2 separate regions of the Homo sapiens genome follow, and region 1 is linked to region 2. The links come from fine-mapping of genetic effects on gene expression. A gene starts in region 2. The other region holds a variant in brackets. All regions are shown on one strand. Distances are between the middles of the regions.

The links.
Region 1: its variant is fine-mapped to the expression of ADAMTS7 in lung (TOPMed, PIP above 0.99).

What each region holds. Positions count from the first base shown.
Region 1 is chr15:78,755,193-78,763,512 of GRCh38, reverse strand. It overlaps ADAMTS7 (ADAM metallopeptidase with thrombospondin type 1 motif 7), which reads left to right. Exons shown (of 24, transcript NM_014272.5): 23 at 948-1,110; 24 at 3,935-4,307. The coding sequence ends at 4,092. LOC112268143 (a long non-coding RNA gene) reads left to right here and starts at 5,768. Exons shown (of 2, transcript XR_002957697.1): 1 at 5,768-5,865; 2 at 7,031-7,549. RefSeq lists enhancers at 5,582-6,386, 6,502-6,711, 6,387-7,191. The variant G/A (reference allele first, on the strand shown) is at 4,150.
Region 2 is chr15:78,807,368-78,815,687 of GRCh38, reverse strand. ADAMTS7 (ADAM metallopeptidase with thrombospondin type 1 motif 7) reads left to right here and starts at 4,224. Exons shown (of 24, transcript NM_014272.5): 1 at 4,224-4,567. The coding sequence starts at 4,468. RefSeq lists a silencer at 3,777-4,196.

The DNA of each region.
Region 1 (8,320 bases), 52 kb after region 2:
GTGCTGTGGTGTCAGGGAAGGCCTTCCAAGGAGGGGTCTGGGGTTGAGACCCGAGGGAGGAGTCAGTGATGCCAAGGACAGGGATCGAAGGGACATCAGGTGTGAAGTCTGAGGCAGGAATGACGAGCTTGAGGGGGCCGGGGAGCCCGGCAAAGGCCAGCGGCAGAAGGGGGCGTAAGAGGGGCCTCAGATGGGCAGGACACCTTCTGCTGGGCCTGTTTGGAACTGAGGGGTTCAGAAATCTCAGATTTGGGCCCTGAGCTGGGTCCTGGAGTCAGCTGGGCCAGCGTTTGCGTCTTTGTCCGACTGGCTGCTGAGTGACTCTGGGCAGGTTGCTTTGCGTTGCTGGGTCACTGTTTTCTCATCTGTAAAACTGGAACAGCTTAGGAGAGGAGGGTCAGGAGGATTAAATGAAGGAACGCAACGAAGCACAGGGCCGGGCACAGCATGACACTGGCACAGACTCAGTGCATGTTTAGGGCTGATAACAACGAAGCCTGGCGGGCTGGGCCCCGGCTGTGAAACTGTCTCCTGCCCTCCTGCCCATGGGCTGCGGCAGGTCCTCTGCCCTGTCCCTCGGGCACAGCGGTGTCTCGCCCACATCTCTGCCCACTGCTGCATCAGGGCTCCATCCCGGCGCCCCTGCCCAGGCTTCTCAGGCATGTCCTGTGTGAGGGGCTCACTGCCCTGCCGCCCCGAGGGCTGTCCCACGGTTCTCACGCCCCTTCCCTCTGCAGGAGCCGATCCCACAAGTGAGAGTGGGGTTCCAGCACCAAGTGGGCTCTAGGAATGGGACCAGGTGCTCCAGGAGGCACTGAGGGGGCGGCTGGGAGCAAGGCCAGGCCAGTCAGGCACAGGGCGCAGGGACGGCTTCCCAGAGGAGGTGTCCCTGCCCCCACTGCTAGGGCTGGCCCTGGAGACACTCATTCCTCCCCCGCTCCCCTCAGTGCTCAGGCCCCTGTGGTGGTGGTGTCCAGCGGCGCCTGGTCAAGTGTGTCAACACCCAGACAGGGCTGCCCGAGGAAGACAGTGACCAGTGTGGCCACGAGGCCTGGCCTGAGAGCTCCCGGCCGTGTGGCACCGAGGATTGTGAGCCCGTCGAGCCTCCCCGTGAGTCCCCTGACCCCAGGCTCCCTGCTGAAGTGAGGTGGGGTGGGGAGGGTGATGGGGAAATGGGGTCGTCAAACCATTGTGCCCACGGCACTGGCTGGTTCCATCTGTAGTCTGGGCTCAGGAGCCACATGGCCACTGAAAATCCTGATGCCACAGGATGCCATGCTGGAGGCTGGGCTGTGCTGGGAGTCAGTCAAGGGGAGTCCCGGCCACACAACATCCCATAGGCAGCTGTCTGACCTTGGGGGAGTAGAGGGAGTGGCCCTGGCCCCTGATTTGCTGTGTGAACCTGGGTAAGCTCTTTCTCCTCTAGGTCTCAGTCTTCCCACAGTGAGACCAGGGATGTCCCTGAGGCTGTGTGAAAACTGGGCCTGGGTGAGTCCCTGTCCCCAGCCCTGGCCTGTCCATTCCCTGGCTAGAGGACTGCCTAGAGTGAGCAATGGAACCACAGGAAGGGCCTCCTTTCCAGGGTCCTGCTAATGAGGTAATGGGGTTTGAGGCAGGAAGGGCCTCCCTTCCAGGGTCCTGTTAATCCCAGTGGTGGGGGGTTTCCTGGCCAGCTGGGTCCTGGTGGAAGGGCCTGAGGTAGAGGTGGTTCTGGACACCCCTGCCGCCGCCTCCAGCATGTGTGCGTGCGCGCACACACACACACACGCCAACACACACACACACAGTCATACACTTCCTTCCTGCAGCCCCAGCTGCTCCCGGAAGTGCTGAGGGCAGGAAATGGGGTGGCCCTGGAGTGTCACCTAGGCTCCCCTCACCAGCTGTGTGGCCTTGGGCTCCATTTCCCTCTCAGGGCCTTCATGTGCTGAATAAAGGGGCTGCCAAGCCCCATCCTTGCATAAATGAGGTCTGGGCATGAAGCACGCAGCACTGCGTGGGGATCCAGGTGGTGCTCAGGGAAGGTGGCTTTTTCCCCTCCCCCACAGCCACTGTCATCCCCAATTGCAAGGTCAGGGAGAGGGCCTGGGGCTGACCCTGCCAGTCTAAGGAATCCAGAAGCCGTGGCGTGAAGAGCTGTGTCCCCTGTGCTATTGGCTGTCTGCTCCCTGCCCCTAGGACAGAGTCCTCAGCCAGGGCCCTCAAGCTGGCATTCAGGGCCCCCTGCAATCTCCCCGGTCTGCCTTCTCCCCTTGTCCAACGCTGCCTTCTCTACCTGTGCCAGCTCCTGGGCAGCCCTCATTCAGGCTCAGAGTGGCCCCTGCCATGCCTCGCTGCCCTGCCTCTGGCATGGGTGGTCTTCCTGCCTCAAACCTCAAGGCCCAGTGGCAGCGCCCCCACCCTGTCCTGCCTGCCCTCAGCACGCACCCAGCCAGCATCTCAGAGCACTCCTATGTGCTACCTGAGCTGGGTGCTGGCACCACGTCTCTCACCTTTATGGCTAGGGCTGGCCACAGGGAGCGGGGTGGTTATGATCCCAGTGGGGGAGGACCAGATGGGGCAGAGAACAGAAACTGAGGCCCCTGGGGGCCTAGAACCAAGGACGGATGGCCCAGGAGGCTCTGGGCTTGCAAGGTCTCCCAGGGGCGGGTGTGAGTGGGCTGCAGGGAGTGGGCTATGGGGGCTGGTTAGGTGGCTGAACTAGAAGCTGTCCTAAGTGAGGAGTTTTCTGCCATCAGTGAACAGTGGAGGGGGGCTGGGAAGGTGTCTTGGACTTGGAGACCTGGAATTCCCAGATGTTCTGCTGGTCTGTGGGACAGTTGGCGGGACATGTGGAAAGCTGGGAAACTCGTGTGTGTGTGCTCACTGCAGTGACACAGCATGGCCACATCCATTTGCTGTGGAGGTGGGGTTGACAGAGGAGGGAACCGAGGCCCAAGAGGTGAAGCAGCTTGTCTGAGGTCACCCCGGGCGACCAGGATGCAGGCCTGCAGATGTGCACTTTGGAGCTCTGCCTGGAGCTGGGGTGGAGGAGCCTGCCTGCTGCCTCGTGCCCTCTGCCGGGCCTGGGGGATGTCCCAGGCCCAGGGCTGGCTGCTGCCTTCCTGCTCCTCCTCCCCAGGGAGGTCTGCTGGAGTAAGCAGGGCCCGGGTGGCAGCTGGGGGCTGTCAGCAGTGGCAGTGGCATCAGGAGCAAGGCCAGGAGGCTGGAAACAAGCCACTTCCCAAAATAGCTCTGATAACCACGGGGCAGGAGGGCCCAGCCAAGCCTCAGCCCTGACAAGCACAGCCTGCAGCTGGCCTCCCTCCCCAGCAGGCTGGGCTCAGTCTCTGGTTTCCGCTGACGGCCTGTAAGGCCCACTCACTCTAGGCTTCGTGGCCCACCTGAGAAGTGGGAGGCTGGCCTGGGAGATGGGACCCTGTGACTCAGAACCCGAGGCTGAGTACAGCCCCTGTGGCTGGAGGTGGTCACGGAGGCCTGGCAGGACAGATGCACTGGGGCAGGGGGCGGTGGCGGGAGTCGGGGGCAGAGGCCGCTGCAGGCTGGCAGGAGGCCCCGGGACCGCAGTTCTGTGCCAGGATCTGTCCGGGAACACCAGGGATGAGCAAGGATGGAGATGGGGTGGCAAGGCGTCGCCCTGGGCAGGCTCTTTAACAGGCATGTGAGGGGGTCAGGGTGGGGTCTCAGGACCTTTCCTCCAGAAACCTCAGCCCAGCAGCACCCGTTCTCGAGTCCTGGGGTTGGCCATGAGTAGGTGGGACAGAGACAGCAACAGTTGGAGACCTGCAACTCCGGTTCGGGAGCCGCTCCAGAAACTGGGGCTCTCTGCTTGGTGGGGAGCTGCTGGAGCCTCCTTAAGGTGGTTGGCGTAGGGAGCCAGGTTCTGGGTACCCCAAGCTACTGGTTCTGATGCCTCTCTGCCCCCCCACTCCAGGCTGTGAGCGGGACCGCCTGTCCTTCGGGTTCTGCGAGACGCTGCGCCTACTGGGCCGCTGCCAGCTGCCCACCATCCGCACCCAGTGCTGCCGCTCGTGCTCTCCGCCCAGCCACGGCGCCCCCTCCCGAGGCCATCAGCGGGTTGCCCGCCGCTGACTGCGCCAGGATGCACAGACCGACCGACAGACCTCAGTGCCCACCACGGGCTGTGGC[G/A]GAGCTCCCGCCCCCTGCGCCCTAATGGTGCTAACCCCCTCTCACTACCCAGCAGCAGGCTGGGGACCTCCTCCCCCTCAAAAAAGGTATTTTTTTATTCTAACAGTTTGTGTAACATTTATTATGATTTTACATAAATGAGCATCTACCATTCCAAAGCACAGCGTGACTTCGTCTTGGATTTGGAGAATCTTAAAAGTGAGAAACTCTTCCCCCCACCCCTCTGCCCAAAACTCCACCGCCACAGCACCTCGGCAGGCGTGGCTTTTCACCTGCTCCTCTGGGACAGATCTGCAGGGGGCAGCGTAGAAAATGAGTCCCTGAGAGCATGGCATCTGGTGAGGCACGGAAGGCCTCAGAAGCTGGGGGGCTGCTCCCCAGGGAGGGCTGTCTGCAGAGGGTGGGGTTCTGGGGGCAGGAAGGTCTTCCGGGCAGGGGCACGGCTTGGCCCTTACTTGCTGCCTGCCTTCAGCTCAGGCTCCCAGCCTTCCCTGGGGCCCCACTCTGTGGTCCTCAGAGACCTGTTCCACAGGGATTGAGCCCACCATGTCACTTGCAGGGACTGCCCCCTGGAGTGGTGGGGACTGGGGCCCCCATGGGGACCTCCCTGGCCCTGTCTGTTCTATCTGTTGACTCTTCTGCAAAAAGCAGGCAGAGAGGGGAAGAGCAGGCTGGCCAGCTGTGCCCTACTGTGTCCCCACGTGTCCCTTCATCTCTGTGCCCAGAGATAGGGCTGGGCTAATTGTCACTGCCTCAGGTTGGCCCCTTTCCCACCACCAGCCCCAGCTACAGGTTCCTACCACGCTGATCTATGGTCCAGCACCTGGCACCTGCCTACCCACAGCCCCTTCCCCTCCCATAAAATCTAGTCCCATGGAGCCAGACAGTAGTGCCCACAGCAGGGAACAGATGGGCATGAAGGTGCTTTGAAGAGGGTCCTGGCCTGACCAGGGGCGGGAGGCTGGGGAAGGGGCGGACACTGTCCCCCCAGGCCCAGGCCCAGCCCTGGATCCAACCCTGGCCTCTGGCTGTGAGCCTTAGACTCAGCCGTTGACAATTTCTTCCTCAGCCCTCCCCCTGGAAGGTGTTACGCCCCTTCTCCAGGTGGGGGACACTAAGGTTCAGAGAGCTCGCCCTGCAGCCTACAGGGGTCACCTCTCACATTCTACTCTCCAGCGTATGACAACCCTGGACGAAAGGTGAATGTAGCCCTGGAGCCTGCATGTGGCAGCCGCAGCCACTCAGGGCTGGGTATATGCTGGGGATGGAGGGGACACCACTGAAAATCACTCCTGGCTGGGCGCGGTGGCTCACACCTGTAATCCCAGCACTTTGGGAGGCTGAGGCGGGCGGATCACCTGAGGTCAGGAGTTTGAAACCAGCCTGGCCAATGTGGCAAAACCCCATTTCTGCTAAAAATACAAAAATTAGCCAGGTGCGGTGATGGGGACCTGTAATCCCAGCTACTTGGGAGGCTGAGGAAGGAGAATCGCTTGAACCTGGGAGGCGGAGGTTGCAGTGAACTGAGTTCGCACCTTTACACACCAGCCTGGGCGACAGAGCGAGACTCCATCTCACACAAAAAAAATAAAATAAAATTACTCCTTAGGGGCTGAGACCAAGAAACAGTATCAGAGGCTGAACCCCTCGGCGATGAGCGTCTGTCCCAGGACTTGGAAGGGAGGGAGGGAGCATGGCCACGGCAGCTGCCTGCAGGTGCGTGTCCTGCTGCTCCCCAATTCAACATGCTCACCTCATTTCACACCAACAAGCCCGATCCTCAGAGGAGGAACTCAAGGCTCTGAGAGGAAGTACCTGGCCCAAGGGCACATGCCCTGGTGACACAGGCCCATCCTAGGCTCCGACTGCCCACCTCCAAGCTCCAGGCTACCCTGAGCAGGTGGAAGAGGGAGAGGGCCCCAAGCAGGTCCCAGTGGTGGCTTTGCACAGAGAGGGCAGCCTGCCAGAGTTCACGCAGGAAAGCAAGTTGCTGGGCAAGCTAGCGTGAGTCCCAGCCCCGCTGTGCTGCCCGAGGGTGGAGGAGCGTCAGGCGTGCTTCCTGTCTGTCTGCAGCAGCCCGGCTGGCCCAAAGAGACCCTGGGGACCCACGCTCTGAGTCACGGCTTCCCAGGCCTTAGTCAGAACGGCCCCTGGTGGCACTCCCTTCCAAGGGGTGGGGAGCAGGGCCTGTCGACTTGCTCCTGACCCACACACCGAACCAGTCCCTGTCCCAGCTCTGCCGCCGCCGCTCTGCTGCGTGACTCCAGGAACCCCCAGCCTCGCTGAATCCACGTCCCCAGAAGAGAAAAGCCTGCCAGGCCTTGGCCTGCCCTGTCTGGGAATCCTTGATGGAGCCACCCCGAAACACCCCTATGGGAACCCCTTTGGTCTTCATCATTCTTGGGTGTTTTCCACTGATGACTGGGGGTGTCCCCAGTGGCAGCTGGGCCTGAGCTGTCAGCCAAGACGGGAGACAAACAAGCCTGTGACTCAGGCAGGGCATGGCACAGCTGGCGGAAGGAGGCATGCCTGTTCTTTGTGGCTGGGCGGGGGGTTATCCGGACACAGGGAGTCTCCAGCTTCCGGCTTTCCCACCTCGGTGCCCCCAGCCCACACCTGCAGCTTGGCCATGGTTCTTGGGGCCTCCCAAGGCTGCCCCTGCTGGCAAAGGCATCCTGATGCACCCGCCCCAGGGTGAGCCAAGGGCAGAGACACCCAGAAACGCCAGGCTGGAAGGTTGGAGAGCCCCTCCTCGCCCCCCGCAACACCAATAAGCCCTGCCCCACCCTCCAAGCCCTTGGGGTGAGCCCCATCACTAGTGACTATAACTGAATTTCAATGCAGAATATTATACAAATTAGTAGTTTATTTCTTCCTTTAGTATTACAGTTCCAAAACATAACTTGAAGGTCAGCACAGGAGCTGCTGTGATATAAAAGGAGAGAGTCACCTGGCGCCCCCTGCAGTCCTCCAGTTGCCCAGCAGCGGTGGGACGCTCAGTGGCACACACTGGGTCTCTGTATGGCCTCCCACCTGCAAGGACTTCCCCGGGCAGGCCCAGCTGCCCAGAAGCCCCGGAACACACAGGAAGACAACACTATAGGATGGCAGGTGGGGATCTGTGCAATACAAACATGTAGCTAGAAAACCCAACTGAGGATCTGTCTAGAATACTTCCGATATCAATATACCGTAGTTGTTGAAACCAGAACCGTCTCCAGCCGTCAGCAGTCTTGGCGGCTACTGTACAGCTGTCAGCATGACTACAGGCAGCACCCGAGGCTATCTGGGGTAAGAAGTGGGCCTGCACATCACATCGGTGAGTCAGTGAGAGTCAGGGCCAGAGGGAAAAGCAACTCGGAGGCTGAGGCTGGCACAGATACACACAAGGGAGTCACACACATAACATAAGAACTTGTTATATAAAATAGATATGTGGAATCTAGAAACACCTTGAGAAAATAGCCTATAAAAATATAAACTGTAGTGAGAGTGTACAAAAGTATTAACAGAGGTTCAACCCATAAAAAACCCCATCCATTTAAAAGCTGGCAATTCGCAGCAGATGTGGGGAGGGAGCTCCCCTCGGTCCTGGTGCGCGCATTTGGACAGGCCTTTGGGTTTCCCAGCTGGCAGGGTCCCCCTTGCAGGGGCCACGGGCTGGGTGTTGGGGTGAAGGTTCAGAGGAGGAACAGCAGCTTGGGGCAGCCCCTGTCAGAAGGGCCCCCTGCCATGGCAGCCAGTGGAGGCCAGGGACCTTCAGGGCACTGGAGGGGACAGAGCAGCTCTTTCCTCAGTGACCCGAGGGAGGGGAAGTGTTAGCGCAAAAGAGTGGGGCCCACAGTCCTGGAAGGAGGAGTTGGCTCCGTCCCGTTCCCAAACTTTAACCAGGCGGAGCCGCCCTCTCTTGCCTTCTGGACACGCATCACTTGATTCCAGGCAGGAGAACCTCTGAGAAAGTGTCCCCAGTCCCTTTCCTCCAGGAACTCTCCTGCTGTCGCACACACACACTACCCGGCAGCTGCTGACAACTGCCTGGAAACACTAACATACCACCGTGGGTTGCAGCCACGACGGGCCCCTGGTCAGGTGCATCTCTCAGGGCAAACTGGACAACACGAGCCTGTCCCTAAAGGCAGCTCTTAGCCCCAGGACATGGCAGTGTGTGCTG
Region 2 (8,320 bases):
GAAATAATTTATATCAAGATACAGGGGGGAAGCTCACTAACTGGATACTTGACACTCTGAACAATGACATAAAATATGTGTTGAAATATCAAATCTCTTGCTTTGTTCAAAATGTACACTTTGGGGTAGGCATGGTGGCTCACGCCTATAATCCCAGAACTTTGAGAGGCCAAGGTGGGCGGATCACCTGAGGTCAGGAGTTTGAGGCCAGCCTGGCCAATATGGTGAAACCTTGTCTCTACTAAAAATACAAAAATTAGCTGGGTGAGGTGGCGAATGCCTGTAGTCCCAACTACTTGGGAGACCGAGGCAGGAGAATTGCTTGAACCCAGGAGGCAGAGGCTGTAGTGAGCCAAGATCGTGCCACTACACTCCAGCCTGGGCAACAGAGCGAGACTCCATCTCAAACAACAACAACAACAATAAAACCGAAAAACACAAAAACAAAATGTACACTTCACTCCCCGAAATTTGGAGTTGGCTGTTCCTGTTTTTCCAGTTGAATTATTTTTGCATCATGAGGGCATGACTAAGGCTTATCATTTTTTGTATCCTTTTTTTGTATCCTATGGTTTCCGAGAAGCTTTAAAATGAAGGCACCCAGCAGGGTGTGGATGGAGTAAAGACCAGGACCTGGGACAGAGGAGGAAGCAGGCAGGGACTGTCATCAGACGTGGGATTTGAAAACACAAACTCCAAGGCTGCATTTCAAAAAAGCCTCCAATCTACTGTTGGGCCTTGGCAGCATGGAGGCAGTTTGTGGTGTTGGCCAGGGAGGGCTGTGTGTCCCCTCCCCAGATCCTCCTGATCTCTAGGTTTTGCTGTGCTGGTGGCAGGGATCACAAAGACCAAGACATGACCTTAGCATCTCACGGTGTGTCGGGGTTGACAGACCCATAACCAGACAATAGCAGTCTAGTGAGCTGTCAACGGGGATGGCAAAGGGTGCTCTGGGGAACCTAAGAGGTCAGGGGGGACGTGCTGGAAGGGGTGACGTACAGCCTAGGTCTGAAAGGACAAGTCTCAGGGACATCAAGTTTATGCCCATCTTTTATTTATTTTTTATTTTTTGAGACTGAGTCTCGCTCTGTCGCTGGCTGGAGTGCAGTGGCAGGATCTCGGCTCAGAGCAAACTCTGCCTCCCAGGTTCAAGCAATTATCCTGCCTCAGCCTCCTGAGTAGCTGGGATTACAGGCATCTGTCCGCCACAACGCCCAGCTAATTTTTTTTGTATTTTTATTAGAGGAGGGGGTTTCACCATGTTGGCCAGGTTGGTCTCGAACTCCTGACCTCAAGTGATCCGCCATCCTCGGCCTCCCAAAGTGCTGGGATTACAGGTGTGAGCCACTGCGCCTGACCAGTGTCCAGCTTTTTAAGATTTATTTTTATTTCTAGAGACAGGGTCTCTCATTCTCTCGCCTAGGCTGGAGTGCAGTGGTGCAATCAGAGCTCACTGCAGCCTCGATCTCCTGGGTTCAAAGGATCCTCCCTCCACATTCTCCTGAGCAGGTAGGACAACAGGCATGCATCCCATGCCTGGCTCACATCTTCTCCCTTTCACCTTCACATGACTGGCTCCTTTTTGTCATTCTGGTATCACAGCTTAAATGTCACCTTTTTAGGAAGGCCTTCCCTGACCACCCCATGGAAAGTAGACTCTAGTCACTTCCGGTTTTATTTTCTTCAAAGCACCTCTCTGTAGCTGGTCTTGTTTATATGGTGGTCTGAATTGTTTATCCATCTGTCTATTTGCTTGCTGTCCATGGCCTCCTCCAGAGTGGGAGCTCCAGGGAACAGAGACCTTATCCACCTGTTCACAGCTGTGTCCCCAGTGCCCTGGGTCTGCAGTGCATACTTGATCTTATGGAGTGAAGAAGAGATGTGCCAGGTGATGAGGGCAGAGTGGAGGTATGTGAACAGGGAGGGTATCTCTAGAATGCACTGTGCAGGTCAAGGTGGAGAAGGAATTTGGCTTTGACACCAAGATGGGGGGACAAGAGGCTTAGCCTGAGGTACAAATGGGAAAAGGGGGAATCTAGACAACCTTGAGGGAGAAGTTTGACTAAGACAGGGAGCAGATATGTGGGGTGGGAATTAGAGGGGACACCCAGTCCATGGAGGGGTATTATCAGTACTTTTTTTGTTTTTTTTGAGACAGGGCCTCACTTTGTTGCACAGGCCGGAATGCAGTGGCGTGATCTTGGCTACTGCTCATTGGTGGGGCCAGGCCTGGCCCAGCCTCAATCTCCTGGACTCAAGTGATCCTCCCACCTCAGCCCCCCAAATAGCTGGGATCACAGGCATATGCCACCATGCTGGGCTAATTTTTAATTTTTTTGTAGAGACGGTGTTTCACTATGTTGCCCAGGCTGGTCCCAAACTCGGGGCTCAAGTGACCCTCCCACCTCAGCCTCCCAAAGTGTTGAGATTATAGGTGTGAGGCACCTTGCCTGCTTTTTGTTTGTTTGTTTGTTTTTCCCTAGAGACAGTGTCTCAGTATGTCTCCCAGACTGGCCTGGAACTTCTGGGTTCAAGTAATCCTCCCTCCTCAGCCTCCTGAGTATCACTGGGACTACAGGCCTGTGCCACTATACCCAGCTATTATCAGTATCTTTAATAGGAGGAAGACAAGAATGTTTTTAGACTGACGGTCACCAACCCAAGGAGACCAAGGAAAGCGGGGGACACCTGGAGCAGGACCTTTGAGGAGACAGGAGGGGAGGGAGCCACAGAGCCCTGGTGGAAGCATTGTCTCTGACTGCTGGAGGGCACCTGTTTCACTGTGTCCAGATGGAGGGAGAAGTGAGTGGGTGCCAGCTACAAAGGCTCATTGTATGCAGTGTGCATGGTAGGATGTGGTGGTCTGAATTGTCCATGTCACTGAGCAGCAAGACCAGCTGGTGTAAGCAGTGGGGAAGAAATGCAAGGTGGTTGGGTAGGGGCCAGGAGTCAAGCAGTAGATGTAGCTGGGAGGGAAGTAGGTGAAGCCAGGAGGGGCTGGTAGGTTGGGCGAAGAGGAAGGTATCAAGGGACTGGAGGAAGAGCAATACATAGTGGGACTGTGAAGGTGGAAAGGACTGCAGAGTCGGGTCTGACAGGGGGGCACCTGAGCTTCGGATTTCCAAGATGGAGCAGTTCTGAGGGATGACACAGCCCAGGCTTTGGCCCTGAGACCTGATGGCTGAGGTGGAGTGGAAGGTCACTGGAGATGAGATGGAGGAAGTAGGTGACCCTGTACTACACAAATTCCCTAGAGGACAGACAGGTTGAGGGTGGAGAGGAAGCCAGAAGTGAGCTTCCAGGAATTGAATGAAAGGGCCCAGGAGATTGGACAATGAGGAGGTGTGCGGGCCTCAGAGGGCAGGGGGCACACAAAGACTAACCAAGGGGAGGAAGCTGACCGCAACCGCCCCGAGGACAAGACGGGCGTCCTCGGTACAGGGCCATGTTTAGTGACGGCAGAAGGGAGAAAGGAAGCTCCTGGGAGCACAGGGGGAAGGGGAGCCGGAAGCCAGAGCCAGGGCTGGGGCCACGAAGGACAGACGGCCGGTGTTGGAGGCGGAGGCTGGCCTGGGATGTGAGGCTGGGGTTGGCCGGCCTCCAGGCTCCCCGGGAGCCCCTGCTGAAAGTCTGTGGGCGCTGGCCTGGGCGAAGCCGCGGTCCCCCGCCTGTGGGCTCAACTCTGCGCTCTGCTTCAAGCAAACGCACTAGGAGAGGAGTCAGGAGACGAGGAACTGCGGGGCCCCACCTCGCGCGGGCAACCGCTGTCTGTCCAGGGAGGGCCCAGGCCTGTCTCCGCAGATAGCTTTGAAGCAGGGCCCCCGGTGTGGCCCTCTGGAGGCCTCCCGCGTCCCCTTTTGAGGGGCTGCCCTGCTTGGCCTGGGGAACACAGCGAAGGGCACCTCGTGGAGCCCAATTTAGGGACAACACATTAATTCTGGAAATTCCAGATTCTTTCCGGGGGTCCTCAACCGGCCGGGGTCGGAAAGGCCTGGCAGGGCTCCGCCGGCAGGGGGCGCTCGGGACAGGGGGGCGAGGGGGGCGGACATCCGTTGCGGGGCGCTGCCTGCGCCGGGCCGGCCAGCCCTTGAGGCGAGCACGGCCTGCGGGGCCGATGAGGCCGGGGCCGGCCGGGGCGGGGCGGGGCCAGGGGCGGGGGAAGGAGTCCGAGGGGCGGGGCGGGGGCCGGCAGCCGCCCTCCCTCACTCTCCCTCCCTTTCTTTCTTTCTTTCTTTCTCTCCTTCTAGCTCTCTTGTCTTTTCTTTGCCTCTGCAGCGGCCAAGGGGGCGGGCCCTGCAGCCTTTGTTGCCCGCGGACCGAGCGCAGCCGAACGGAGTCGGGGCCGGGTCGCCGGGAGCTGCACGCCGGCCGGGCATGTCCTGAGCCGGACCTGGGACCAGGCAGCGACCGGACGGGACGGACGAGAGCGTGCGCGCGGGGTCACCCGGCGGCCGCCCGGTTCCTGCCATGCCCGGCGGCCCCAGTCCCCGCAGCCCCGCGCCTTTGCTGCGCCCCCTCCTCCTGCTCCTCTGCGCTCTGGCTCCCGGCGCCCCCGGACCCGCACCAGGTGGGTGTCCGCCCCTCCCCGGCCAGCCGGGCCTGCCACCCCTTCCCGCTCCCCCAGTCTCGGTTTTGTCCCTCCTCACCTTTGTGGACCCCGCGCCGGCTCCGCTGTGCCTGGAGTTGGTCGCGTCTTCCGCTCCCTGGGTATTAGGGGACAGTAGTCGGGGTCGGGCCGGGCCGGGAGCGAAGCCGCGCTTCTGGGGAAACTTCCTCGGCCCCTGATTCAGTTACTGACACTGCCTGTCGCCTGGAATAAGCCCCTTCCGCTCTTCGGGCTCCGGTTTCCCCACCTCGGGTGCAGCAACGCGCCTGGCTCCCGGGAGAGCTCTCGTCCGAGTGGGCTGGACGGAGCGCGGTTTACCCACTGAGGATTTGGTTTCTCACACTCCTTAGCGAGGCTCGCCTGGAAAGCGGGCTGGCCGGGACACAGCCGGCGAGGGCGCCAGGTCGCAGGTCTTCGCGGGACCCCGCCGCCCCCCCAGCTCCCGCCCACCGCATCTGGGCTGCTGGCGCGGCCCCTGGCGGCTCGGGGGGCCGGGTCTTGCGCGGTCCTTGCACTTCCTGCCTCTCCCTTCCCCAAGTGTGAAGACGCCGGGAGTGGAGCGGGGAGCAGGAGCTTCTTTTCCCGGCCATGGGTTAACTCTCCCCGCCCCGCCGGGCCGGCCTCCGACGAGCCTCTGGCCTGCGTCCAGACTCTTGTTTGGCGGCGACCTGCCGGGCGGCCGCGCTGCTGGCGCGTCCGACGCAGCCGGCCTGGGAATTCAGTAACCGAGGATGTAGGAGACCCCAGGCCCGGTGCTCAGGGAGCTCCCAGTCAGGGGAGCCGGTGGATAGTGGGGAGAGTCCTGCAATAGAGCCGACCGGCAGGCTTTGTAGGAGAGGAGGGGCATGAGGTTGGAGAGACTGGAAGGATGGATGGATTCTGGATGAGCTAGAAGGGCGTGGAGGGAGTGGGGCCCTCCCCTGGGGAGCATCAGTCGGGGGACTGGATTAGGGTTGCTTGCTGGGATGGGGTCGACCTGCCTCCCCACTGGAGGGATTGTGACGAGAAAGTAGTCTGGGCGGGAAGGATGGGGACATTGACTCTTGATCTTAGAGGTTTGGGAAGCCGTTGAGGGGAGCAGCTGATGAAAGCAGTGTTTTGGAAAGATTTGGTCTAGCAGCCATGCGCAGAGCGCAGAGGGAGCGAACATTTAATGAGCACCTACTGTGTGCCAGCCTCACGGGTTCTTATTTCTCATCATCTCCACAACAACCGTGCAAAGCAAGTGATGGAAAGTCCTTTTATGGACCAGCAAACAGGCTCAGAGTAGAGCGACCTGTGGGGTTGGACTCCTGAGCTTCCTGAATGAGGCTTGTGTTTTCCACTGTCCAGAGCTGGGGGCTGAGGAGGATGAACCGGGCGATGGGAATGGGAGAGCAGGAAAATGCTTCCCTCAGGACTTGGGTCCTGGCCCCCTGGCAGCTGTGGGAAGAGTTGGGTGCGGTCAACCTCGTGGGATTCTTATGAGGATTAAATGAGATATTGAATATGTCAGTTGCTCAGGCAGGACACAGTGACTACAATGTAGTGGTCATTATTTTTATTAATCTGCCAGGCCGACCCAGGACTCCCCAGATGACCTGGACCTGCTGTTTGAGGGTGGAGGCAGGCCAGGCACTCTCTCCAACCTAATCTGGGCACAAACACTCCAAGGGTGAAGTCTGTCTCTAGTGTTCCCATAGATATAGAGCATGGGGTCCTTCCTGTTCTGCACTCCCTCAGGATTGGTGACTCTGAGGCTGCTGGCCTGTTTGTCATTTTCTTTGAAGCCCAGGACCTAAGCCTGGGGCTCCTCCTACCACTGAATGTTACCTTCTTTAAGACCAAAGGGCTCATCCTGGGCTCACTTTTAGGAAAATATATCCCTTTTCCCCACTTGTGACTGACCCAGGGACCTGCTAGGGTTTCTGAGGCTGGAGCCCAGTCATGTGTCCTCCTCATGCCGTATGGCACATGTGAACTCTGTGTGCATGTGTTTCTGTGCATACTAGAACTCACAGAGGAGGGCATTCACATACTACCCCCCACCCTGCCAGTTATTTTTCCTCCTTGGCATGAGCTGTGGGTCATTTGAAGGGCTGGATTGTAACTCAGGTTCTTGATAGGGAGGTGAGGGTAAACACCATCTTGGCATTTCTTTGGTAGAAGCTCCAAAGTGACAGTTCTGTCACCCAGGGGAGATATTAAAAGTATTTAACACCCAATGTGGCAGGAGCTTGGTCCAATCAGAACAGACCTCCTGACTTGGCAGAATAGATTTGGCCATGAATCTCTGGCAGTCCTCTTGAATGGTGCCTGTTGCCATCCCACTGTCACTTGAACTCTGCAGGCTCAGCTTTGTTGCAAGCACATAACCGGTCGAGACTGGAACCTGCAATTACTCCTTGCTGGCACTGGGTGGTGCTAGTTTCAGCCACCAACATCTCTACTGAGTGAGGTCAACTAGGCTACAGTGAAAGTTACTTATTTTTAAACTTACCCCTGCACTTTTTAAAAATATTTTAATGGCAAAACAATACAAGTTCACTATAAAAAAAGGTAATGCTGGCGGGCTGCAGTGGCTCATGCTTGTAATCCCAGCACTTTGGGAAGCTGAGGCTGGCGGATCACTTGAGGCCAGGAGTTCGAAACCAGCCTGGCCAACATGGTGAAACTCCATCTCTATTAAAATACAAAAATTAGCTGGACATGGTGGTGCATGCCTGTAATCCCAGCTCCTCGGAAGGCTGAGGCATGAGAATTGCTTGAACCCAGGAGGCAGAGGTTGCGGTGAGCCGAGATCGCACCACTGCATTCTAGCCTGGGTGACACAGGGAGACTGTCTCAAAAGAAAAAATCTGAACAAAACAAGAAAAAAATTATTGCAATAAAAGTGGCAACATCCTGTAAGTCTATTCTTTTATTGTTGATTGAAAAACATGTTTTAGACCAGACACAGTGATTCACACCTGTAATTCCAGCACTTTGGGAGGCCAAGGTAGGCAGATCGTTTGAGCCCAGAAATTCAAGACCAGCCTGGGCAGCATAATGAGACCCCATCTCTACAAAAAAATTTAAAAATTATCCAGGCCTGGTAGTCCACGCCTGTAGTCCCAGCTATTTGGGAGGCTGAGGTGGGAGGATTGCATGAGCCCAGGAGGTCAAGGCTGCAGTAAACCACGATCGCATCACTGCACTCCAGCCTGGGAGATCTCAGAAAAAAAAAAAAGAAATAAATAAATAAAAACATGTTTTTTGTTTTGTTTTGTTTTGTTTGTTTTTAAGCCATTAGGCAAACAGATAAAACAACAAGTTTTTAAAAGAAAAAGCTAAATATACTTTAGAAGTTCTCTTGCTAATTTTCAGTCATAACTTAGCTCACATTTGCTATGTGCCAGCTGTTGTTATAAGCACTTACATACTAACTCATTTAATTCTTACACAACCAAAGAGAGCAGCTGTAATTATTATCATCCCCATTTTACAGATGGAGAAACTGAGATTCTGAGTGGTTGAGTAATTTACCCATGGTCTCACAGATATGGGTAGCAGAGCTGGGATTCAAACACAGCCTCTCTGGCTCTAGAGCTCACTAATCCGAATGCTTTTCACCTGCGGCATAGCTCTACTTAGCCCTGTCCACATTTTTGAACTTAATAGGATGCTTCTTTGTAAGTCATCTGGAATTTCTGTCTTGCAATATTTGCCCAGGATCTACAGCAGGTATTCTCAACA